5 separate regions of the Homo sapiens genome follow, and regions 1, 2, 4 and 5 are each linked to region 3. The links come from fine-mapping of genetic effects on gene expression. A gene starts in region 3. Each other region holds a variant in brackets. All regions are shown on one strand. Distances are between the middles of the regions.

The links. PIP is the estimated chance that this variant, and not a neighbour inherited with it, causes the effect.
Region 1: its variant is the best candidate, but not a certain one, in a credible set for the expression of TMBIM6 in whole blood (TOPMed, PIP 0.62).
Region 2: its variant is the best candidate, but not a certain one, in a credible set for the expression of TMBIM6 in whole blood (INTERVAL, PIP 0.68).
Region 4: its variant is the best candidate, but not a certain one, in a credible set for the expression of TMBIM6 in whole blood (INTERVAL, PIP 0.59).
Region 5: its variant is the best candidate, but not a certain one, in a credible set for the expression of TMBIM6 in whole blood (INTERVAL, PIP 0.53).

What each region holds. Positions count from the first base shown.
Region 1 is chr12:49,762,801-49,767,899 of GRCh38, forward strand. It overlaps TMBIM6 (transmembrane BAX inhibitor motif containing 6), which reads left to right. Exons shown (of 10, transcript NM_003217.3): 10 at 73-2,134. The coding sequence ends at 96. Among named protein-coding and RNA genes, the nearest start is that of TMBIM6, 24 kb to the left of the region's middle. RefSeq lists a silencer at 3,572-3,772. The variant A/G (reference allele first, on the strand shown) is at 1,931.
Region 2 is chr12:49,206,138-49,211,241 of GRCh38, forward strand. No RefSeq gene overlaps it. Among named protein-coding and RNA genes, the nearest start is that of TUBA1A, 20 kb to the left of the region's middle. The variant C/G (reference allele first, on the strand shown) is at 2,751.
Region 3 is chr12:49,739,339-49,744,442 of GRCh38, forward strand. TMBIM6 (transmembrane BAX inhibitor motif containing 6) reads left to right here and starts at 2,219. Exons shown (of 10, transcript NM_003217.3): 1 at 2,219-2,273. RefSeq lists enhancers at 1,786-1,915, 1,844-2,535, 2,156-2,475.
Region 4 is chr12:49,358,368-49,363,471 of GRCh38, forward strand. No RefSeq gene overlaps it. Among named protein-coding and RNA genes, the nearest start is that of SPATS2, 6.5 kb to the right of the region's middle. The variant CT/C (reference allele first, on the strand shown) is at 2,830.
Region 5 is chr12:49,717,398-49,722,501 of GRCh38, forward strand. All of the region lies in intron 2 of LOC124902929 (a long non-coding RNA gene), which reads left to right. Among named protein-coding and RNA genes, the nearest start is that of FMNL3, 13 kb to the left of the region's middle. The variant AC/A (reference allele first, on the strand shown) is at 2,664.

The DNA.
Region 1 (5,099 bases), 23 kb after region 3:
TGCTCACTCAAGAGTTTTAGCTTGAATGTCAAATGTCAAAAAATTAATTGGGTGATTTTTCTCCATTTCTAGGATAAGAAGAAAGAGAAGAAATGAAGTGACCATCCAGCCTTTCCCAATTAGACTTCCTCTCCTTCCACCCCTCATTTCCTTTTTGCACACATTACAGGTGGTGTGTTCTGTGATAATGAAAAGCATCAGAAAAGCTTTTGTACTTTGTGGTTTCCTCTATTTTGAATTTTTTGATCAAAAAACTGATTAGCAGAATATAGTTTGGAGTTTGGCTTCATCTTCCTGGGGTTCCCCTCACTCCCTTTTTTGTCAACCCCATCTGTAGCCTCTTCCTCTACTCAGGCAGTCGACCCGCCACGATGAGAAGTGGGACCAGCAGAGGGCGCCAACTTCAGGAGTCCGCTTTCCCACCAGGCTTCATTCACCCAGTGGACCTGAACTGTTTGGTAGAGCCACCCGGCCCTTCCTTCCTCATTGTTGTTTGGTATGCGCACAGTTCCTGTGGGACTGGGCCGTGAGTTTTCCATTGGAAAGAAGTTCAGTGGTCCCATTGTTAACTCAGCCTCAAATCTCAACTGTCAGGCCCTACAAAGAAAATGGAGAGCCTCTTCTGGTGGATGCTTTGCTCCCTCTGAGCTGCCCATGCTGGTCTGGCAAACACACCTTTCTGCTTTGCCTTCACAAAAGTAATGTGTTCCCTTTCCCACCCCTTGCCTGACCCTCAGGGAGTCAGCCTGCTTCCATCCATGGGTGGGAAGACTTCAGCACAAAGGAAAGACTAATTCTTGTCAGGCATTTTTGAAAAGGCTGATTATGTGTATCAAGGTACAGCATCGTAGGGTTCCCCTAAACTTGCCCTGTTTTTGTTTTTTTAGTTTGTTATCCCCTTACTGAGCGGCCTCTACTAGGTGGCTGTGATTAAATGTCCCAAGCAAGGATAGGGAAGGGGAATGGTTGAGCCTCTGGAGATCATTGTAACCAATCCTGCCAGACCTGTTTGGGGCAGTGGGGAGCAAACCTAGATAAGGACCTGTTTGGGGCAGCAGGGAGCAAAATCTCCTTTAACAACCAAGCAGTTCCTCATTCACATCAACAGAGCGAGGCTGTGATAACTTAGGAGGCAGCAATCCTAATAGTCCTTCAGTGCATTTTAGTCTGTCTCCAACTGGACACCAGTAGGTAGTGTCAAGCCAGAGATTCGGGGCAGTAGATAAATGTTCATTTTACTGATGCACTTTAGTTTTTGGTCTGTTACCTGTTTTCCAGAAATTTGTGGCCTTTTAGGCGGGAGTTAGGCGACCAAACCAGTGAGAGCCCCAATCCCTGCAGTTTTGTGGCTTCAAGTGTGGGTGGACAGTCCTAATGGGGATCTCCAGCTCCTTCCTGTGGGCTGCCACAGACAGCTACCCCCAGAAGGGTCAATGTTGGGAGTGGTTGTGGCTCTGAGCTGCTCTACAGAGCTTCAGTGTGAGAGGATCGAGCCATTGAAAGCTCATTACCAGTAGGACATAATTTTTGGCTCTCCCTATTCACAACCAGTGCACAGTTTGACACAGTGGCCTCAGGTTCACAGTGCACCATGTCACTGTGCTATCCTACGAAATCATTTGTTTCTAAGTTGTGTTTATTCCTGGAGTGACATGCCACCCCGAATGGCTCACTTTCACTGAGGATGCTGTCCTCTGATTTAGCTGCTGCCTCCAGCCTCTGGCTTGAGAACTTACTAAAGGCACTTCCTTCCTGTTAAACCCCTGTTAACTCTCCATAAATTTGGTGATTCTCTGCTAGGCCTAAGATTTTGAGTTAACATCTCTTGAAGCCAAACTCCACCTTCTGTGCTTTTTGCTTGGGATAATGGAGTTTTTCTTTAGAAACAGTGCCAAGAATGACAAGATATTAAAAAAAAAAAAGAAAGAAA[A/G]AAAAAAAAACACCTACTTTTAAAGAAAATACCTAACAGATTTTTAATATAGTTATCTCTACCACTTTCTTTTCTAGTTTCTTGATTTTCAGCTCAGGCTGCATTCTAACTCATACTGTGAAGACAAAGGTGTTTTTGATTCAGAAATATATGAAATCTGCATAGTCTTAATTTGTAAAAAATAAAGAAAATTCCTTAACCTTTCCTGGTGTTTGTGTTAAATTCAAGGGTACAGCTGGTCATGGAGCTTGTGATACTGCCAGGGTTTGCTACTGGGGGCTGGGAGTGGGACACGATTGAGTTCGTGTCATAAGTATGAACAGAGACAAAGACCTCCCACTCTGTAGCCCCAGCATGCCACAAATGTTGAGAATTTTCTCTGTCAAATATGTAAGCCAGTTTTTTTTCCAGTCCTCTCCACCCCCTGCCACCTTTGCTATATGTTGTTTGTGGTGATATGTGCAGTTGGTTCAGATGTGCAGCCAAGCTTTGGAGTTTGAGGATGCATAATGGAAAAAAGGCAAATGATACCCACTCATTCTGCAAGTATTTTTGTTCACCCACTGCTGCCCGGCTGTATTCTAAGTGCATTAGTTAATAAAGATGTAAAAGTTGGCCAGGCATGGTGGCTTATGCCTGTAATCCCAGCACTTTGGGAGGCCAAGGTGGGCAGATCTCGAGGTCAGGAGTTCAAGACCAGTCTGGCCAACATGGTGAAACCCCATCTCTACTAAATACACCAAAAAAAAAAAAAAAAAAAAAAAATTAGGCAAAGTGGCAGGCACTTGTAATCCCAGCTACTTGGGAGGCTGAGGCAGGAGAATTACTTGAACCTGAGAGGTGAAGGTTGCAGTGAGCTGAGATGCACCACTGCATTCCAGCCCGGGTGACAGAGAAAAAAAGTCGGCCAGGCGTGGTGGCTCACGCATGTAATCCCAGCACTTTGGGAGGTCGAGGCAGGCGGATCACCTGAGGTCAGGAGTTTTGAGACCAGCCTGGCTAATAAGGTGAAACCCCGTCTCAACTAAAAATAACAAAAAATAGCCCGGCATGGTGGTGGGCGCCTGCAGTGCCAACTACTCGGGAGGCTGAGGCAGGAGAATCGCTTGTACCCGGGAGGCAGAGGTTGCAGTGAGCCGAGAGCGCACCACTGCACTACAGCCTAGGCGACAGAGACTCCCATCTCAAAAAAATAATAAAAGTCCTTGTCATAGTTCAGATATGAGATTATCAATCGGAACTTGCATTACAATCAGGTTGCTCAATTCTGTGTTTGTGTTTTTGTTTTGATTTTTGGAGACAGGGTCATGGTCTTGCCCTGTCACCCAGGCTGTAGTGCAGTGATGCGATCATGGCTCACAGCAACCTCAGTCACCTGAGCTCAAGTGATCCACCTCAGCCTCCCGAGTAGCTGGGACCACAGGAACATGCCACTGCACCCCGCTGATTTAATTTTTGTAGAGGTGGGATCTCACCATGTTGCTCAGGTTATGTTGAACTCGTGTTCCTCAAACGATCCACCTTAGCCTCCCAAAGTGCTGGGATTATAGGCTTAAGCCACCATGCCGAGCCTAGTAGCTCAATTTTACCATGCTTGTTCTCCGCTTGTCATATTCATTGTAGACCCAGGCCTTCCTGTTAGAATTTGACCATTATTCTGACTGGTTCATCTAGGTTACTCCCAGTTGACCTGTTCGGACTCCACATGTGCCCGTGCCAACTAAGGATAGCCATTTTCCTTAAGCTTGGGAAATATTCCTTAAGCATCTTTTCTCTCTTGCTGACTTTGAGAAAAGACTGGTCCTAAAGACTCTTTAAAGCCCCCATTTTATCTGCTAGGGGAGAAGTACAAGGTGCAACACCTTTTGAGTGTTTACAAGGTCAGGCACTGTACAAAGTGCCTTACATGGATTGCTTAACATCCCCAGTAGTTTAAGAAGATGGTGTATTTACTACGTACGGTCAGTTACTTCCAGGGCTGGCAGATGTGTGCCCAGAAAGAATCTAGGCACACTATCTCCAGAGCCCCTATCCTTTACTGTTAACCTATGTAAGCAGTGTTAAGGTTAGTCCTCCTGGGCTGGAGTCATCCTTTCCATCCTGACCTACATCCTGGCTATGGCTCTGGCCAAGGGTGGAAAGGGAAATTGTGAAGGGGTTTGAGCAAAATCTCCCCACCCCAAATCTTTGTAACCAAAGAAACGTAGAAGAGTGAGCGGCCTTTTTAGTCTTTCTTCCCCCAGCCAGCCCACCAATTACCAATTAAATGGAAGAGGATAACAAACAGCAGCTCTTTCCATGTGTAGGAGACCTGCAGGCCAAAACTAGACCAAGGAAGACCCTAGTGGGCGGCAGAAGTGGAAGGTCCTCTGGGTTGAAAGAAGAAACAGTATTTTTTTTTTTTTTTTGGAGATGGAGTCTCACTCTGGCCCAGGCTGGAGTGCAATGGCGTGATCTTGGCTAACAGCAACCTCCACCTCCTGGGTTCAAGCAATTCTCCTGCCTCAGCCTCTCCAGTAGCTGAGATTACAGGTGCATGCCACCATGCCCAGCTAATTTTTCATATTTTTAGTAGAAAGGGGGTTTCCCCATGTTGCTCAGGCTGGTCTCGAACTCCTGACCTCAAGTGATCTGCCCTTAAGTGATCTGCCCACTTCGGCCTCTCAAAGTGCTGGATTACTTACAGGCATGAGCCACCACGCCCAGCCAAGAAACAATATGTTCTTTCTAAGCATGGTGAGCAGATGAGGGGATCTGTCTTGTTTAAGCTGGGGATAAAGATGTAGAAGACAGTTCCTGCCTTGGAGTCCTTCACCACTGAGTAGTGCTGGAGAGCCACATGTGAACATTACATGTGAATAGGAGTTAAGCATAGTGGGCCATGAGACAACAGCAGGAGACACAGCCTGGTCTGGTCGGTCAGAGAAAGTGCTTTGTAGATGACACCTCAGCTAAGTCTAAATCTCAAAGTTTGAGTCAAAGTGAGGCAAGTGAAGAGATTAAGAAAGGCAGTGGGAGTGGATGTTTCTGATCAAGGGATCAGCACGAGGAAAGACAGGAGTACGCTCCAGCATGGGGAGTGCAAGGAAGGAGCTGCAAAAACAGGTTTTGCTAACTAGGAAAGTTGGAGGAAACTAGTAGGAAATGGAGGGGGTAAGTCAACAGTTAC
Region 2 (5,104 bases), 530 kb before region 3:
ACACAGGGCAGGCTATAGTAGGATCCAATCTTTTCAGAAGATTGGATATATCCGGATTGCCTACAAAAAAAGGCACAAAGCAGGTTGCAGGAATAGCACAGTTTTCTCATTACAGTGTTTGTGGTTAGCTTTTCATTTCTGAGATGATTACCTAAAGGATCTTTATTGAAATCTGTAGATGACTGGTTTAGTTACAACAAGTGAGAAGCCTTACGATCTGACTTTAAATGGTAATTATTAGAAAAATAGGATTTAAAAATCTTGACTTGTATTGCTAAATGAACTGAGAACATCTATAATAATAACTAACATTTTAAAGTTATGACTATGTGCCAGGCTGTGTTCTGGGTATTATATTTGTATTAACTCATTTATTCTTCACCACAACTTTCAGAGATAGATATTATAATTAATCCCATTTTACAGATGACAAAATTGAGGCACAAAAAGTTTAATTAAGTTGCCAAATGTCACCAAGTAAATAATAAAGCCAGAGTTCAAACCCAAGCAGCCTAAATTCTAATCCTTCTAATCCTAATTAAGGCCTTCTGGCATAATTTTTTATGCTAAATATAGATTTAAACTTACATTTAGATTTTTCTAGTGATTTTGTAAAGCAGATCATATATGGTCCACTAGTTCAGCATTTTTCCAAACTTGTTGACCATCCATCTATTGTTAAAAGTATACTTTGCATTCATATTATAACAAAATAATATTTACTCTTACTGTACACAATACACTCTATTTTTTAAATTCGATTTCACTTTTTAAAAGTTGGTCACAACTCGCTAAAAGAAAGAAAGAAAGAAAAAAAAAAAGAAAGAGAGAGAGGCCGGGTGTGGTGGCTCACGCCGGTAATTCTAGCACTTTGGGAGGCCGAGGTGGGCAGATCACGAGGTCATGAATCACGAGTCATGAGATCGAGACCATCTTGGCCAACATGGTGAAACCCTGTCTCTACTAAAAATACAAAAATTAGCTGGGCATGCTGGTGCGTGCCTGTAGTCCCAGCTATTCAGGAGGCTGAGGCAGGAGAATCACTTGAACCTGGGAGGCAGAGGTTGCAGTGAGCTGAGATTGCACCACTGCACTCCAGCCTGGGCGGCAGAGCGAGACTCCGTCAAAAAGAAAAAAAAAAGAAAGAGAAGGAAGGAAGGAAAGAAGGAAGGAAGGAAGGGAAAGAAAAAGAAAGAAAGAAAGAAACTCATACCTGTAATCCCAGCACTTTGGGAGGCCGAGGCAGGCAGACCATGAGGTCAGGAGTTCGAGCAAGTCTGATCAACATGGTGAAACCCCATCTCTACTAAAAATACAAAAATTAGCCAGGTGTGGTGGTGGGCGCCTGTAATCCAGTACTCTAGAGGCTGAGGCAGGAGAAATGCTTGAACCTGGGAGGTGGAGATTGCAGTGAGCCAAGATTGCGCCACTACACTCCAGCCTGGGTGAGAGTGAGACTCCATCTCAATTAAAAAAAAAAAAACAAAACCAAAGGAACAACAACGAAAAACTATTCTGGGCAGGCATGGTAGCTCACGCCTGTAATCCCAACATTTTGGGAGGATGAGGTGGGCAGATCACTTGAGGTCAAGAGTTTGAGACCAGCCTGGCCAACATGGTGAAACCCCATCTCTACTAAAAAAAAAATACAAAAAAAATTAGCTGGATGTGGTGCCACACACCTGTGATCCCAGCTACTTGGGAGGCTGAGGTGGGAGAATCGCTTGAACCCGGGAGGCGGCAGTTGCCGTGAGCCGAAATCGTGCCACTGCACTCCAGCCTGGGCAACAGTGAGACTCTGTCTCAAAACAAAAAAAAAGAAAAGAAAAAAAAGAAAGAAAACTAAAGAAATCCGAATAAAGTATGGACTTCAGTTAATAATAATATATCAATGTTGGCTCATTATTTGGGGAAAATATATCATACTAATGTAAGATACTAATAACAGGTTAAACTGGATATATGGAATTTCTATGTATCTTTGCAATTTTTCTGTAAATCAAAAACTATTCTACAACAAAGAAATTTATTTTAAAAAACTATTTTCTACTAAAAAGAATCAGGTCTTTAAAAAAAAAAACTCAGAGCTTCTAGAAGATAATGAATCAGGGGTTTTTGGAGAAATGGCTAATTCCTGGTCTGAAGCATAAAATGTGCACAATGTGCCTGGTACATCTTGTTATGCCAGAAAGCAAAGAAGTTATCCAAAAAATTAATGGGATTGTCAAAAGGCTACAGGAGCCAACATGAAGCTATTATTGGCCCCAAACAAGACACTATACGCATTGAAAAGAACCATTACTGCAATTGAAAGTGACACACTGATCATATTTTTCAGATCATGAATTCATAATGAGATTTTTAAAGACAGAAAACAAAAAACATTCATTTGTCACTATATTCTGAAAATTGGCAATTTAAAGGGAAGAAATTAAGCTTTATCTTCTCTTTTCCATATTAACTATGTTTCAGGCAACCAAATAGCACTTCTTTACAAAATCATTTTAGCTAATAAATGTAGAAAAAAGTACAGAATTCGAAAATTGCCACTTCGCACCCCTTAATAGCAAATAATTGACTCAGGTAAAGGTCATCAAAGGATGATACCATTACAAGCAAGTTGAGGCATTTTACAATGAAGGCACCAGTCCGTCACACCTTGAATCTGCTAATGAGTCTCGGCATCTCTAACAGCTGGAGAACCGGAAACTGTGTGCCTCCTCGTGTGATGCAGTGTGAAGCGCACGGCA[C/G]GGCCTGTGAGATAGACCCTTGAATCCGGATCTGATGAAGGCTTCGAGCTACCTTCTTACAGGTAATATGGAGAATAGAGGGGCAAGTTAAATAAACCACCAAGAAGCAAATGAGCAAATTCCGAATGTGGGCCATTTTAAAGAGAACTGTGTCAGCCTGTTCTTGTATTGCTATAAAGAAACCCCCGAGGCTGGGTAATTTATAAAGAAAAGGGGTTTAATTGCCTCACAGTTCTGCAGGCTTTATGGGAAGCATGGTGCTGACTTTTGCTCGGCTTCTGGGGAGGCCTGAGAAAGCTTACAGTCATGGTGGCAGGCAAAGGGGGAGCCCCCAATACATGGCGAAAGCAGGAACAAGAGGGCAGGGAGGTGCCACACACCTTTAAACAACCAGATCTCCTCAAGAGAACTCACTACTGTGAAGACAGCACCAAGCCACCCGGGATCTGTCCCCATAATCCAAACACCTCCCACCAAGCCCCACCTCTGGCACTGGGAATTACGATTCAACATGAGATTTGTTTTTGTTTTTTTCTGTTGTTGTTTTTTTTTGAGACAGAGTCTTACTGTGTCGCCCAGGCTGGAGTGCAGTGGCACAATCTCAGCTCACTGTAACCTCGGCCTCTCGGATTCAAGCAATCCTCCTGCCTCAGCCTCCTGAGTAGCTGGGACTACAGGCGTGTGCCACCGCGCCTGGCTAACTTTTGTATTTTTAGTAGAGATGGGGTTTCACCATGCTGGCCAGGCTGGTCTTGAACTCCTGACCTTGTGATCCGCCCACCTCAGCCTCCCAAAGTGCTGGGATTATAGGCATGAGCCACCACGCCCGGCCCTAGATTTGATTTTTGTTTTTAATTTTTAAATTATTACTTATCATTATTATTTTTATTTATTTATTTATTTTGAGACGGAGTTTTGCTCTTGTTGCTCAGGCTGGAGTGCAGTGGCACACTGTCTGGCTCACTGCAATCTCTGCCTCCTGGGTTCAAGCGATTCTCCTGCCTCAGCCTCCCAAATAGCTGGGACTACAGGAATGTGCCACCACACCTGGCTAATTTTGTATTTTTAGTAGAGATGGGGTTTCTCCATGTTGGTCAGGCTGGTCTCGAACTCCTGACCTCAGGTGATCCGCCCGCCTCGGTCTCCCAAAGTGCTGGGATTACAGGCATGAGCCACTGTGCCCGGCCTATTTTTATAATTATTTGAGACAGGGTCTCACTCACTCTGTTGCCCAGGCTGGAGTGTAGTGGCAAGATCTTGGCCCACTGCAACCTCCGCTTCCTAGGTTTAAGCAATTCTCCTGCCTCAGCCTCCTGGGTAGCTGATTACAGATGTGCATCACCACACCTGGCTAATTTTTGTATTTTTAGTAGAGACGAGGTTTCACCATGTTGGTCAGGCTGGTCTCGAACTCCTGATCTCAAGTGACCCACCTGCCTCAGCCTCCCAAAGTGTTAGGATTACAGGCGTGAGCCACCATGCACGGCTATTATTATTATTTTTTAACTTATTATTTTAAGTTCAGGAGTTTGTGTGCAGGATGCCCAGGTTTGTTACATAGGTAAACATGTGTCATGGGGGTTTGTTGTACAGATTAGTTCATCACCCAGGTATTAAGCCTAGTATCCATTAGTTATTTTTCATGATCCTCTCTCTCCTCCCACCCTCCACCCTCCAGTAGGCCCCAGTGTGTATTGTTCCCCTCTATGTGATCATGTGTTCTCATCTTTTAGCTCCCACTTATAAGTGAGAACACAGAATGAGATTTGGGCGGGGACAAATATCCAAACTATATCAACAACTGACCCAGTTTATTCAACAGGACAATGGCATGGGGATTTAAAAAAAATGGAAGAGGAATGGCTTCAGATTAAAAGACAAGAAGCCGGGCTTGACGGCTCACGCCTGTAATCCCAGCACTTTGGGAGGCCAAGGTGGGCAAATCACTTGAGGTCAGGAGTTTGAGACCAGCCTGGGCAACATGGTGAAACCTAGTCTCTACTAAAAATACAAAAATTAGCTGGGCCGTGGTGGGGCCCACCTATAGTCCCAGCTGCTCGGGAGGCTGAGGCAGGAGAATAGCTTGAACCCGGGAGGCAGAAGTTGCAGTGAGCCAAGATCACGGCATTGCACTCCAGCCTGGGTGACAGAGTGAGATTCTTTTTGAAAATAAATAAATAAATAAAATAAAATAAAAGAGACATAACCAAAATAATGTGTTCTCCTCATTTGGATACTAATTCAAACAAACCAATTACAAAATAATTTATTTTGAGGTAATCAGGGAAATTTGAATATGGACCAAGAAATTGTTAATTTATTAGGTATGACAATTACATTGAGGCTATGTAAGA
Region 3 (5,104 bases):
TGCCCAAACAAGTCACCTTGAAGTTTGATGCCTGTGCTGTCATTAATAGCAATAAGTTAGGAAGGGGATGTGGCTCTTTTAGTTGGGAAAAAGGCTATATGACCGAAAATAAGTACATTTGTCATGAATGAGGACTGTGTGAAAATGAATGTGGATACTGGTCTTGTGTCATTTAGGCCACTTGGATAAAAAATGAAAAGGATCCAGTCCACCTTCAGAAAGGAAAAAATGGCTCTTCCTGTACTAAGGGACAATGTAACCCCTTAGAGCTAGTAATAACCAATCCCCTTGATCCTCGCTGGAAAAAAAGGGGAGCGTGTGACCTTAGGAATCGACAGGGCTGGACTGGATCGTCGAGTAAATATCTTAGTTCGAGGAGAAGTCTGTGGAAAATTTAACCTTACCAATTGCTGCCTGCACATAGATGATCAGAGGCAAGTAGTCGAAGATATAGTTAAAGACATGACGAAACTGGCACATGTGCCTGTACAAGTGTGACACGGATTTGACCCTGAAGCTATGTTTAAAAATGGTTCCCAGTGCTAGGAGGATTTAAAACTCTTATAATAAAAATTATAGTAGTAATAGCCTGCTTACTGATCCCTTATTTACTATCTGTACTCATTCAAATGGTAAAAGGTTTCATCACTACTCTAGTTCACCAGAATGCTTCAGCACAAGTGTACTACATAAATCACTATCGATCTGTCATGCAGGAAGACATAGGTAGTGAAGATGAAGGTGAGAACTCCCACTAATAAAATGAGTGAGAGTCTCAAAGTGGGGGAATAAGGGAGGAGACCACCCCTCATATTGTCTTATGCCCAATTTCTGCCTCCAAAGAAAGAAGTAGTAAAAACTAAAAGGCAGAAATGAAATCCACAAGCAGACAGCCAGGCACCACACCCTGGGCCTCGTAGTTAAAGATCGACCCCTGACCTAATCGGTTATGTTATCTATAGATTACAGACATTGTATAGAAAAGCACTGTGAAAATCCCTGTCCTGTTCTGATCTAATTACCGGTGCATGCTTGCTCAATCGATCACTACCCTCTCAAGCGGATCCCTTTAGAGTTGTGAGGCCTTAAAAGGGACAGGAATTGCTCACTCAGGGAGCTCAGCTCTTGAGACAGGAGTCTTGGCCGATGCTCCTGGCGGAATAAACCGCTTCCTGCTTTAACTCGGTGTCTGAGGGGTTTTGTCTGCGGCTTGTCCTGCTACACTACAGCAAAAATTAGGTTGTATTATAGAAAATTAACTTTTTTGGTTTTTTTGAGACGGGGTCTCGCTCTGTCTCCCAGGCTGGAGTGCAGTGGCACCATCTCGGCTCACTGCAACCTTCACCTCCAGGGTCAAGCAATTCTCCTGCCTCAGCCTCCCGAGTAGTTGGGATTACAGGCACACGCCACCACGCCCAGCTAATTTTTTAAATTTTTAATAGAGATGGGGTTTTACCATGTTAGCCAGGCTGGTCTCAAACTCCTGGCCTCAAGTGATCTGCCCACCTCAGCCTCCCAAAGTGCTGGGATTACAGACGTAAGCCACCACGCCCAGCCGAAAATTAACTTCTATTAATTGCATACCTGGGTTTGCCTACTGAGAATCATACCCTGGATATTTGTATTCTTTACTGAAAAGAACTGTTCTATCTTTCCAGAAAGTGGTTTCCTAAATTCTGGTTTTCCTCCTGGAATCCTGCTATTTCCTTCTCGCATACTCTAGAGAAATCGAAGTGTTTTCAAAGGTGCTCTGAAGCTTACGCTCCACTAGTTTCACAGTAAATCGCCCCTTGCGAGGGCGCTTTTTTTTTTTTTTTAATGTGTTCTCTGAATCGCTTTCCCCCTTTAACACTGCATGACAAGACTAAAGCCAGAATCCCAAGACTGCAGCGCTACCCCTTCACAAGCCGTCGGGCTGTCCCGGGCGGGGCCGGCCCATTTTCACTTTCTCCACTAGAGGCAGCAGCGCACCGTGACCCTGGCTTACTACGGTAAGAAAGCGGAGACCTTTTGCTTCGAGGCGGTTGGTGGCCAGTAGTCTTGATCGACAAGCTCAGGCCTCTGAACTAAGCAGCCGCTGTTTATGCACGTACAGCCAATGGAAAGGCAGGAGTGCGGCCAACGGCCAATGAGGACTGGTCTTAAGCGGACCACAGGGCGGGGTTTCCCTCGAGAGGCGAACGCCGGGTAAAAGATCGGGAGCGGAAGTGGGCGAGTCAGAGCACATCCGGTGTTAGAAGCGCTGGTAGGCCTTGGAGAGGCGGGTTAGGAAGGTACGTCTGAACCTAGTACTGGGCGAACTGGGAGTGAGAAATGGAAAGGGAGTTAGCAGTTACTGTCTGAGCAAGAGTGGCAGTAGCTTCCTTCTGCGGACAGATGGCACCCTGAAGGAACGAGGCCCTGCTCGGAGACCAGACTCGGGAAAACAGGGTGTGGAGGGAAGCTAGGGAACTAGTGCTGCGCGTGCGCAACAGTGCTGAAGCGGGGGTGGGGCGGAGGCGAGTCTGCGGGGGTTTTGGGGGGTGTCGAGGCCTCTATTCTGCCCCAGAGCGCTGGCGAAGGCCCCTTCTCAGCCCGCCTTTTCCTTTCTCCCGCTCCTTCTCCTCTACTAAGTGTAGACGCAGGGCCCCTTGGCCTAGCTTCGATCGTTCGAATTCAGAGCACGTCCTTCCGAGGTGAAGGAACGCGAAACTCCACCCATCCGATTGCTGTTCGGCTGCGGGCGGGTCCTTTGGTCGGGCTGACCCTGGGTGAGCGGCCCGGAGCCAAGACTCGAGGTAGGGCCTGGCGGGCGGGTGATGTCACACTCCTCTGTGACACGCGAGGCTCCTCAGTTACTTAGCCAACGGCAGAGGCGGGAAGTGAGAGGAGTCTGGGGCTGGGGCTGCCTTCCAGGCCCACGGGGCGGCCCCGCTCTTTTCGGATTGGTTACCTTTGGGCAGGTGAGGTGGCTTTGCTTTGCTTGGTCTTGAGGTTTTGTGGGCGTCTTTCTAAGTCTGCTCAGCAAGGGCGTCGTTGGGCAGTTTTTATCTTGGGCCTACTTGCTGGACCTGTGGTAACAAGTAGGCTTTGGTATCTTTGTATATTTACTGAGTGTAGAATTACTACCCGGTGCCAGCCCGGGCTGCTTGGGGTCATCAGCCTTTCATTGACCACCCCCACAACAAAAATCACTATGAACTTGAGACTGTGTTCTAGCAACTTGTGAATGTGTAACCCAGTAGAAGGGCTGACTGTGCTTGAAACAGACAAGGATTTTAAGGTCAAAGGTAAATAAATGGCAAATGGACTTTTCTAGTTACTTATTGATATTTATTTACAGTTTATCTTTTGTATGTGTGGTTTAAGAATTGAATTCTGGAAAGATACCGGAATTGCATAAACACATTTCTTATGACCTGCGTATACACACTTTTTTCTGTAATTATTGTATTTACACTCTTTGGTGTTTTCTTATTCTTTGTGTCTAATATTTTTGTTCTGGCCTAAAGAATATGTTGACATTTAGATTCTCTGCCGCCACTTTCCTCCAGTAGGGACAGAATAGTTGAACCCTTGAGAAATACAATCTGTACTTTTGATCCATAGTTTGCTTCTTCCGTTATTTATCTGGTTGTGGAAACATGGTTTAGTACCTTCCTCCTCTTTTTTTTTTTTTTTTTTTTTGAGGCAGAGTCTCACTGTCGCCCAGGCTAGAGTGCAGTGGCGCAGTCATGGCTCACTTGAACCTTGACCTCTCCTGGCTTAGGTGATCCACCCCAGCCTCCTGAGTAGCTAGGACCACAGGTGGACGTCACCAGCTCCAGCTAATTTTTGTATTTTTTGTGGAGATGGGGTATCACCATGTTGCCCAGGCTTACCAACTCCAGAACTCAAGCGATTTATTTATTTATTATTATTATTATGTTTTTTTTTTGAGACAGTCTCACTCCCTTACCCAAGCTGGAGTGCAGTGGTGCAATCTCGGCTCACTGCAACCTCCGCCTCCCTGGTGCATTCAATTCTCATGCCTCAGCCTCCTAAGCAGCTGAGATGACAGGCGCGCACCACCATGCCCAGCTAATTTTTGTATTTTTAGTAGAGACGGGCTTTTGCCAAGTTGTCCAGCCTGGTCTCGAACTCCACACCTCAAGCGATTCGCCCGCCTTGACCTCCCAAATTGCTAGGATTACAGGTGTAATCCTTTCCTAAAGAAAAAGAGTCATCTCTCCTGAAGAATAAGAAAAGGTAAAATTAATCTAGATACTTAGCATTTTCAAGTTATTTTCCCTGATTATAGATATAGTTCGCGCTCTTTATACAAATGCTGAAAATGCAGAAAAATGTCATAGGAATCAATGTATGTTTTGGGAGGGTTTTTTTGTTTTAAAGATTTGTTTTCACCTATGGCTGAAACTTTTGAAAGCTTATATAAATGAAAGCTTATTTTTCTACTGTAGGATGGAATAGTAAAAAGAGCACTAGACTATAGTGGTCAGAAGACCCCAAATCTGGTTCTGGCTCTGCTATTTAACTTTCTAATGTTGGTCAAATCAATACTAATGTTTGTTTTAGTACTTTACGTTGATTTCACACAGATTTTCTTATTGGCATTCAGTAGAGCAGGTATTGATCATCATCGTTATCTTACAGATGAGGAAGCTGAAATAACCTTAGGTAAAATGATTTTTCCTAGGTTATATAGTAGAAAGTGGCAGCACTTGTGACACCAAATCCTGTCCTCTTGCCACTATTACATTGCCTTTTTGAACTTAAAAAAGATGTATAAAATGGGCCTAATCTTTCCCTTTCCTTGTGGGTTGATGTGTGAGGATTGAAGGTGATACATATATAAAAGCACCTTAAAAGTTATAAATTTTATATAAATATAGTCAGGAGTATTAGTATAGAAGGTACTACTGCTGGCCTGACGAGTTTCATTTTATTTCGTAAACTGCCCAAGGGTATTAATTTTCTCTAGAGAAACCATTGAATATTCTGATGCTCTAACTTCTGATTTTTTTTCCTTTACTACTTTGACCTGGTTGTAGAATCTGGTAGAAATGTCTTCTACCACTCTGTTTTGTTCCCCCAGAGTTTCTAACCAAACTGCATGCAGCCCTTC
Region 4 (5,104 bases), 380 kb before region 3:
TCTCTTGAATTATTTCCTTAGAATAAATTCCCATGGGTGGGATTACTGGGTCAAAGGGTATGAACATTTTTTATAGCTCTTGTCAATATTGCTCTTAAATTGTGGTGCCCAGAACTAAATGCAATTCTGAGACGTGTTCAGACAGAACGGGGTACTGTGGGGCTGTTACGTTCTCAAGGTCTGAACAATATATCATCCTTTAAATCCAGCAGCCTAAAAATTTACTAGCTTTTTTTGGTTGCTATGTAAGTGTGACTCATTGAGTTTATAGTCAACTGAGGCCCTTAGATCTTTTCCTAGGCACTGTGTCTTAGAGCTATGTTTGCATCTACTCTAGGACCCAGGAGGCTTTTGAGGACTCACTGACTTTAGTACTCTATGTCTTAGTTTTCTTTTCTCTTGAACAGTGGGGTGGTCCTAACAAGCCTGGAGACGTGTGGTTTGTTGTAGTCTTAGCTAGGAACTGCAGATGGCGCTACAAGGCTGTCATGGTAAAATATGTCCCTCGGCTGTCCCCTTCACTTAAAAAAAAATGTGGTAGTGGCACCTCCATAGCAGGTTCATTACCAGAGTTCAGTCCTCTCCTTTTGCTGAGAAGGAGCAAGCAACTGTGAAGTTGGATTTGGGGTGTTATTCAAAGCAAGCTCCAACTGAAGCATGCTTTTCAGTTGTCATTTAATCTCCTAGGGGAATCTAGAGCTGTCTATTTCATGTTAGAACTTTGAACGCACATCTCATGCCAGTGCTTTGGCTTTTGAAGTTCCCACCCTGAGAAGGTGATTTAAAATGTTTTTCTTTTGCTTCATGTTCCCTGCAGTATTTCTGTTAGTCGCCTCAAGGGATTAAAAGTTGTTCAACTGTTTTGTTTTGTTTTGTTTTGTTTTTGCTAAGATGAGTTTTGAGCAATAAAAGTAAAAAATTTATGTAGGGTTCCAGCTAAAGATACTTCATTTCAATAATTTGTTCTCTCTTTTCTTTCTTATTCTTCTTTTTCCCCACCTCTCATTCACCCTTTCCATAGTCCATCTGGTTATTTGCAAACTATTATGACTCTAAGCAAGGATCTTGGACTTTCTGGGTTTAAACGTTACTGACAAGTTTCAACAGAACAAAGCAGTAAAACAGTGCCCTGTATGGGAAACTTGGAAGGGAATCTTTTTTTTTTTTTTTTGAGACGGAGTTTCGCTCTTGTTGCCCAGGCTGGAGTGCAATGGCACCATGTCAGCTCACCACAATCTCCACCTCCCGGGTTCAAGCGATTCTCCTGCCTCAGCCTCCTGAGTAGCTGGGATTACAGGCATGTACCACCACACCCAGCTAATTTTGTATTTTTAGTAGAGACGGGGGTTTCTCCATTTTGGTCAGGCTGGTCTCGAACTCCCAACCTCAGGTGATCTGCTCGCCTTGCCCTCCCAAAGTGTTGGGATTACAGGCCACCACTCCCAGCCCAGAAGGGAATCTTTTAACCCATTCTGTGCCAGACCTCAGTCCCAATTCTGGGTTGAGAAATGTTGTGGGGAACATCTGCTGGGCAGTGACTGAGTCAGCATGTGAGCCTGGCTTTGCAAGCAACACCTAAAAGGGCATTTTTCCTAGAATCAATGGCTCAGGCACATTTCAGGTGAATTAGTACCAGAAAAGGAACGGGAGCTGGGTGTGATGATGGGCGGAGGCGGGGGGATCACTTGAGCCCGGGAGTTTGAGGCTACAGTGAGTTATGATTCTGCCACTGTACTCCAACCTAGGCAACAGAGCAAGCCCCTGCCTCAAATAAATAAATAAGAAATTTATTAATCTGTCTCAAGAGTGGGGAAAAAAAAGGCCAGGCATAGTGGCTGATGCCTATAATCCTAGCACTTTTGAGAGGCTAAGGCAGGAGGATCACTTGAACCCAGTGGGGAAGATTGCTTGAGTTTGAGACCGGCCTGGGCAACATGGGGAGACCCCATCTCTATAAAAAAAAAAAAATTAGCCAGGCCTGGTGGCTCACACCTGTAGTCCAAGCCACTGGGAAGGCTGCAATGGGAGGACCAGTTGAGCCTGGGAGCTGGAGGCTGCAGTGAGCAATGATCCCATCACTGCACTCCAACCTGGGCAACAGAGTGAGAACCCTGTCTCTTAAAAAAAAAAAAAGGAATGGGGCTTGGCGCCGGTGACTAACGCCTGTAATCCCAGCACTTTGGGAGGCCAAGGCAGGTGGATCACGAGGTCAAGAGATTGAGACCATCCTGGCCAACATGTGAAACCCCGTCTCTACTAAAACTTCAAAAAAATTAGCTGGGCATGGTGGCGCACCTGTAGTCCCAGCTACTTGGGAGGCTGAGGCAGGAGAATCGCTTGAACCCGGGAGGTGGAGGTTGCCGTGAGCTGAGATCGCGCCACTGCACTCCAGCCTGGGTGACAGTGCGAGACTCTGTCTCAAAAAAAAAAGAAAAGAATGGGAAGGGGTTGTGGGACATAAAACGTCTTTGGTTCAGGTGTTTCCCAGTCACAGATCTGAGGGCCACTGAGGCTTGTTTTACTCCCCCACCCCTCCTTCCATATCCTTACCCACTTTAGACGTGGTTTCTCTTGCTTTTTCCTCCCTTTCCCTCCCATGAACCACAGGAGAGAGTGTACGTTTAATATTCAGTAAATTTGATATTCAGTGCCTGCAAACTTACTTCGTCTTAGCAGTTGACTTTTCTTGCACAGCCAAGATGACTGATCATTTCAGACCCATCTCCCTTCAGGCTCTAATTCTTCTCCATCAATGTGTTTGTTTTGATATTTCTGCCTTTGGTTGATGTTCTTCTTCTTTCCTATAATTATTTTTCCTCTCTGCTAAAT[CT/C]TTTTTTTTTTTTTTTTTTGAGATGGAGTTTCGCTCTTGCCCAGGCTGGAGTGCAGTGGTGTGATCTTGGCTCATTGCAACCTCCGCCTCCTGGGTTCAAGTGATTCTTGTGCCTCAGCCTCACGAGTAGCTGGGATTATAGGCGCCCGCCACCACGCCAGGCTAATATATTTGTATTTTTTGTAGAGACAGGATTTCATCATATTGGCCAGGCTGGTCTCGAACTCCTGACCTCAGGTGAGCCACCGGCCTCAGCCTCCCAAAGTGCTGGGATTACAGGCATTAACCACCATGCCTAGCCTTGCTAATACAAATCTTTACACTTCTTTTATGACCTAGCTTAAGGTTTATCCCTAAATGATGCCTTTGCTGATTAATTCCACCTCTAGTAATCTTTGCCCTTTGAATTCCTTCTGTATTCCCATCTAGTTTGTACTGTTCTATCAATAAGTTTCTTGCATGTTGCCATATAAATTGTTCTCTGTCTCATGTTTGCAAGTCTTCTCTTCTTAACTATACCAAAGCTGCTTGAGGGCAAGTGACTGTGTCTTCTCCTAATGTAAATAGCAGGACATTTATTAAATGTGCAACCTAGGTAAATTATTGAAAAATTTTGAGCTTCAGTTTCCTCATTTGTTACATGAGGACAATGATGCCTGCACCACACAATGTTCAGACAATCAAATGAGACAATGTGTACAGAGTGCTTTATGAAGTATAAAACATTTGACAGAAGTGAAGCATACTATTTTTTTAAAGTGGTGACAGAATCTATAAATGAAAGATAATTTAAAAACTTAATAAAAGAACTTAGAGTACAGCAATATTAGTTACTATCTTACACATAGGACAAATTCACTTAATATCAAAGTCAAGTCTTAATGAACCTGCAAGGCTCACATTGAACTGAATTTTTCAGATCTGAGTTTTGGGTCCAGCATTGCCAATAATTTTGTGATGTAACACTTCAACCTTTGATAGTTTAAGGCCTTTCCCAGCTTTAAATATCTGATACACAAGTGAAAATTTGGGTATGTTAGCCTTGTTTTTGGGCCTCAGTTTTGTTATCTGTAAAATGGGAAATCTGACCTAATTAAACCATTTTAATTGAACTTTATACAATGGATGTTCAAAGACACATTAATTCTGCAAAAAAGTCTTGGGGGTGGGGATGGGAGTGGGAAGAGCTTCCTTGGGGAAAGCTGCACACTACATAGCCTGCTCGCTTCAATATGAACAAAGCATGGTATCATATTAAATATTCTGGGAAGTAAATACACCAGTTTAACTTGATTTTAACCTGTGCTTCCCAAACTTAATTGGACATGGAATAGTTTTCTCAGATAACATCTATTTAGTATCCCATGAAACGAATTTTCTGAGGCACACTTTGGACTGCTAACATGAATATTCTTAGGTACTAGGGTTAGTATAGGCAAAAGGAAAAGTACAATCTTATGAGCTGTTCTCTACTGGTTTTTGTGCCTGTTGTCACTTGCAGCTTCAGTCAATGGAAACTTTAAAACATTATGTTTCTTAATTACAGTCATTGGTTATCAAGTCTCCAAGATAATAAGTTAAATTTTTGTGCCTCTCAGGCTCTAGTTGGCCTCTTTTTCTTCCTAATAAAAACATGGAATCTGGCAATCAATTATTTAAGATACAAAATATCAAGTCAAGGATCCATTTGAAAACATATCAAATTAGGTCAGGTTAATACCTGCAGAATATATCTGCCAAGGTGAAGCTTATGTCATGATTTCTCTCTAATTCTAGTTCTGGCACTTGATCATTAAGTAACATGGGATAAATTAATTTCGTAAGGCTGAACAGAGGCTAATGGATCTCATTTGAAAATGATCTTTTTCTTTTTTAACCCTTAACATCTATGCTAAACATTTCAGAAATTTGGTTATTTTTGTGTTTTCTTCAGCGTAGGTCACAAATATTATATTTTGCATTTATTGCAGCATTTATTTTCCTCCAAAATAATTTATACATGCACTTTGAACAATTTGCAATTATTTCAAGGCAGGTGACGATAAATGTTTTATTGTGAAGTAAAACATACACAGTATGCCGGGCGCGGTGGCTCATGCCTGTAATCCCAGCACTTTGGGAGGCTGAGACAGGTGGATCACCTGAGGTCAGGAGTTCGAGACCAGCCTGACCAACATGGAGAAACCCTGTCTCTACCGAAAATACAAAATTAGCCGGGCGGGGTGGCACATGCCTGTAATCCTAGCTGCTCAGGAGGCTGAGGCAGGAGAATCG
Region 5 (5,104 bases), 22 kb before region 3:
AGTCAGCTCCTTCAGGCTACGATTTGATCTTTTCTGCAACTTGGTTTAGGCAAAATGTCTTAGCTATGATTCCAGAAGCACAATCCATAAAAGAGCAATTGATATATTATACTCTATCAGAATTAAAAATTAATGCTCTTTGAAAACTACTGTTAGGAGAACTAAAAACAAATCACAAGCTAGGACTGGGAGGAAATATTGCAAATCACCTATCTGACAAAGGATTTGTATCCAGAGTATATAATGAACTCTCAACACCTGGCTGGGCGCAATGGCTTACGCCTGTAATCCCACCACTTTGGGAGGCTAAGGCAGGTGAATCACTTGAGGTCAGGAGTTCGAGACTAGCCTGGCCAACATGATGAAACCCCGTCTCTACTAAAAAATTCAAAAATTAGCTGGGAGTGGTGGTGCGTGCCTGTAATCCCAACTACTCAGGAGACTGAGGCAGGAGAATCACTTGAACCTGGGAAGTGGAGGTTGCAGTGAGCCGAGATTGCACCAATGCACTCCAACCTAGGTGACAGAGTGAGACTCCATCTCAAAAAAAAAAGAAAAAGAAAACAAACACCCAACTCAATAGCAACAGGTGTTAAGCAGCCTCTGCAAAAAAAAGAAAAGAAAAAGAAAAGGAAAAACAAACAGCTCAATTAAAAATAAGTTAAAAAAAAAAAAAACAACGGCCAGGCATAGTGGCTCATGCCTATAATCTTGACACTTTGGGAGGCCAAGGCTGGAGAATTGCTTGAGTTGCTTGAGTTGCTTAAGTCCAGGAGTTGAGGACCAGCCTGGGCAACAGTGGGATCCCATCTCTACAAAAAAATTAAAAATAAAGTTAGCCGGGTCCATGGCACACACCTGTAGTCCCAGCTACTTGGGAGGCTGAAGTGGGAGAATCACTTGAGACCAGAAGTTCAAGACTGCAGGGAGCCATGATTGCACCACTTCACTCTAGCCTGGGCAACAAAGTGAGACCCAGTCTCAAAAAATGATAGCGATTTTTCAAAAATTAAGAATAAAATAAAGGCCGGGTGTGGTGGCTCACGCCTGTAATCCCAGCACTTTGGGAGACCGAGGTGGGCGGATCACGAGGTCAGGAGATCGAGACCATCCTGGCTAACACGGTGAAACCCTGTCTCTAATAAAAATACAAAAAATTAGCCAAGCGTGGTAGTGGGCTCCTGTAGTCCCAGCTACTTGGGAGGCTGAGGCAAGACAATGGTGTGAACCTGGGAGGCGGAGCTTGCAGTGAGCCGAGACTGAGCCACTGCACTCCAGCCTGGGCGACAGAGCGAGACTCTGTCTCAAAAAAAAAAAAGAAGAAGAAGAAGAAGAAAATAAAATAAATTTTAAAAATATAGGGCCAGGCACAGTGGCTCACGTCTGTAATCCCAGCACTCTGGGAGGATGGGAGGCTGAGGCGGGCAGATTGCTTGAGCCCAAGAGTTTGAGACCATCCTGGGCAACATGGCAATACTTGGTCTCTACAAAAAGTATAACAAATTAACCAGTAGAACATATCTATAGTCCCAGCTACTTGGGAGGGTGAGGTAGGAGGATCACTTGAGCTTGGGAGGTCAAGCCTGCAGTGAGCTGTCATCACACTACGGCACTCTAGCCTGGGCAACAGAGTGAGATTCTGTCTCAAAAAAGATGTGCGTGTGTGTGTGTGTGTGTGTGAGAGAGAGAGATGGTTTGGATTTCAGTGTGTTTCATTTCTGTTAGCTGCTTTTTCTCATAACCATTGGCCAGAACAAGATCAGTGCATTTGAAATGAAAAGGAGGGATCAGAAGGAGGGTTATAAAAGTAGACAAGGAAAGGTGGGAGATATTGGCAGGGGGCAATGGTTCACACATGTAATCCCAACACTTTGCGGGGCCAAGGCTGGAGGATCACTTGAGTCCAGAAGTTCAAGAACAGCCTGGGCAACATAGCAAGACCCTTTCTCTACAAAAGAAATTAGCCAGGTACAGTGGCATGCACCTGTAGTCCCAGGTACTCAGGAGGCTGACATGGGAGGATCGCTTGAGCCCAGGAGGTCAGGTCTGCAGTGAGCCATGATTGTGCCACTGCACTCCAGCCTGGTGGCAGAGCGAGAGAGAGAGAGAGAGAGAGAAAGAAGGGAGGGAGGGAAGGAAGGAGAGAGAAAGAGAGAAAGAGAAAGAAGAGAGAGAGAAAGAAGGGAGGGAAGGAAGGAGTGAGAAAGAGAGAGAGAAAGAAAGAGAAAGAAAGGAGAGAGAGAAAGAAGGGAGGGAAAGAAGGAGTGAGAGAAAGAGAGAGAAAGAAAGAGAAAGAAAGAAAAAGAAAGGGGAGGGAGGGAAGGAAGGAAAGAGAGAGAGAGAAAGAAAAAGAAGGGAAAGAAAGAAAGGAAGAGGCCAAGCACAGTGGGTCATGCCTATAATCCCAGCACTTTGGGAGGCTGAGGTGGGCAGATCACCTGAAGTCAGGAGTTCAAGAGCAGCCTAGCCAACATGGTGAAACCCTGTCTCTACTAAAAAAAAAAAAAAATTAGCCAGGCATGGTGGTGCACGCCTGTAGTCCCAGCTACTTGGGAGGCTGAGGCAGGAGAATTGCTTTAACCCGGGAGACGGAGGTTGCTCTGAGCCGAGATCATGCCACTGCACTCCAGCCTGGGCGACAGAGCGAGACTCCGTCTCAAAAA[AC/A]AAAAACAAAAAAAAAAAAAATTTAGACGAGGACCTCGAGGTCATTCCCAAATTGCTTCCACTGGTTCTCCTCTCCATCCTTGCCCTGGGCTGAGGGATTTAATCTGCTTTTTATCTCTCACTCTGCCACACCACCTCCTAACTTTGGGAAAGCAGATCTGTGGCTATTTTCCTACCTTCCTCCCCTCTACCTTCTTACTCCCCCCACAGCCTTTAAAGTCAAGTCCAACTGCCATTTTCCTTTAAAGGTTTTATTTATTTGTTAAAAACCACAAAACTTTGCAAAGTTATGCTTACCAATACATGCCAATTGTGCCACAAGAGGCAGCATAGCATAATGATTAAGAGCATGGGCTCCAGAACAGTCACCAGAGCTCAAATTCAAGCTCTGTGACCTTGGACAAACTGAATGAGCCTTTTCGTCATCTGTAATGTAGTCATTGTTCCTACTTCCCAGGGTGATTGCAAAGATTAAATGAGTTAATACATTTAAAACATCTTGAACACCATCTAGCATCTCATAACCAGAAAACACTGTGAAGAAAACCCTTAGAAATAGAGCTGAGGAAGACCTTAAAGAGAGGGTTCTCACGCATGTATAACTGATAACAAAAAAGATTCTACAAAAGCCACAGTTTTGCACAAAGGCCACCACAACCTTTCACAAAAAAAATACTGCTGCAAAGACATCTGCCCAGCAATTGCTTGTCCAACCTCAGACTGGTGTCGGCCTTGTTATTGATCTTTGTAGCCAAGGATAATTATTTCAAAATAATTATGTAATCCTCATTTTTTCCTTTGAAAACCTTTGTCTTCCTTTACCTTCCTGAATATGCATATAGGTTACTATGGCACATGTATTCTCATTGCAATGCTCTATTCCCAAATAAATATCATTTTCTTTTGGGAAGCCTCTCCTGTTTGTTATTTAGGTTGACATATGCATTTAAATGACTCCTGTGCCTTTTCATGGCTTGATGGCTCATTTCTTTATGGCACTGAATAGTATTTCATTGTCTGAGTGTACCACAATTTATCCATTCATCTACTGAAGGACATCTTGGTTGCTTCCAAGTTTTGGTAATTATGAATAAAGCTCCTGGAAACATCCATGTGCAGATGTTTATATGGACATAAGTTTTCAACTCCTTTGGATAAATACCAAGGAGCATGATTGCTGGATTGTACAGTAAGAGGACGTTTAATTTTCTTTTTTACAATAATTTTAACTTTTATTTTAGATTCAGAGGGTACATGTGCAGGTTTGTTACATGAGTATATTGCATGATGCTAAGGTTTGGGTTACAATTGATCCCATCACCCAGGTAGTGAGCATAGTACCTGTATTAGTCTGTTTTCACACTGCTGATAAAGACATATCCAAGACTGGGCAATTCATGAAAGAGGTTTAATGGACTTACAGTTCCACGTGGCTGGGGAAGCCTCACAATCATGGCGGAAGGTAAGGAGGAACAAGTCACATCTTACATGGATGGCAGCAGGCAAAGAGACAGCTTGTGCACGGAAACTCCCCCTTATAATACCATCAGATCCAATGATACTTATTCACTATCAGGAGAACAGCACAGGAAAGACCTGCCCCCATGACTCAACTACCTCCCACCAGGTTCCTTCCACATGGGAATTGTGGGAATTACAATTCAAGATGAGATTTGGGTGGGACCATATCAGTACCCCAATAGTTTTTCAACCCTTGCCCCTTCCCTCCCACCAACCATATCAGTACCCAATAGTTTTCAACCCTTGCCCCTTCCCTCCCACCCCCTCTAGTAGTCCCCAGTGTCTATTGTTGCCATCTTTATGTCCACGAGTACCCAATATTTAGTTCACACTTATGAGAATATGCAGTATTTGGTTTTCTGTTCCTGTGTTAGTTCACTTAGGATAATGGCCTCCACTTGCATCTATGTTGCTGCAAAGGACATGATTTTGTTCTTTTTTATGGCTGTGGTATACTTAGTTTTCTAAGAAATTGCGGAACTCTCTTCCAAAGTATCTGTACTATTTTGCATTCCCACCAGCAATGGATGAGAGTTTCCATTGCTCCACATGTTTACCAGCATTTGGTGTTGTGAATGTTCTGAATTTGGGCCATTCTAAGAGGTGCACAGTAGTATTTAATTGTACTTTTAATTAGTATATCCCTGATGAGATATAATGTGGAATACCTTTTTTATAAATTAATTTTTTTTTGAGACGGAGTCTCGCTGTGTCGCCAGGCTGGAGTGCAGTGGTGCATTCTCGGCTCACTGCAACCTCCGCCTCCTGGGTTCAAGCGATTCTCCTGCCTCAGCCTCCCAAGTAGCTGGGACTATAGGCACCCGCCACCACGCCCAGCTAATTTTTTGTATTTTTAGTAGAGACATGGTTTCACCATGATAAAGCCGGGCACGGTGGCTCATGCCTGTAATCCCAGCAC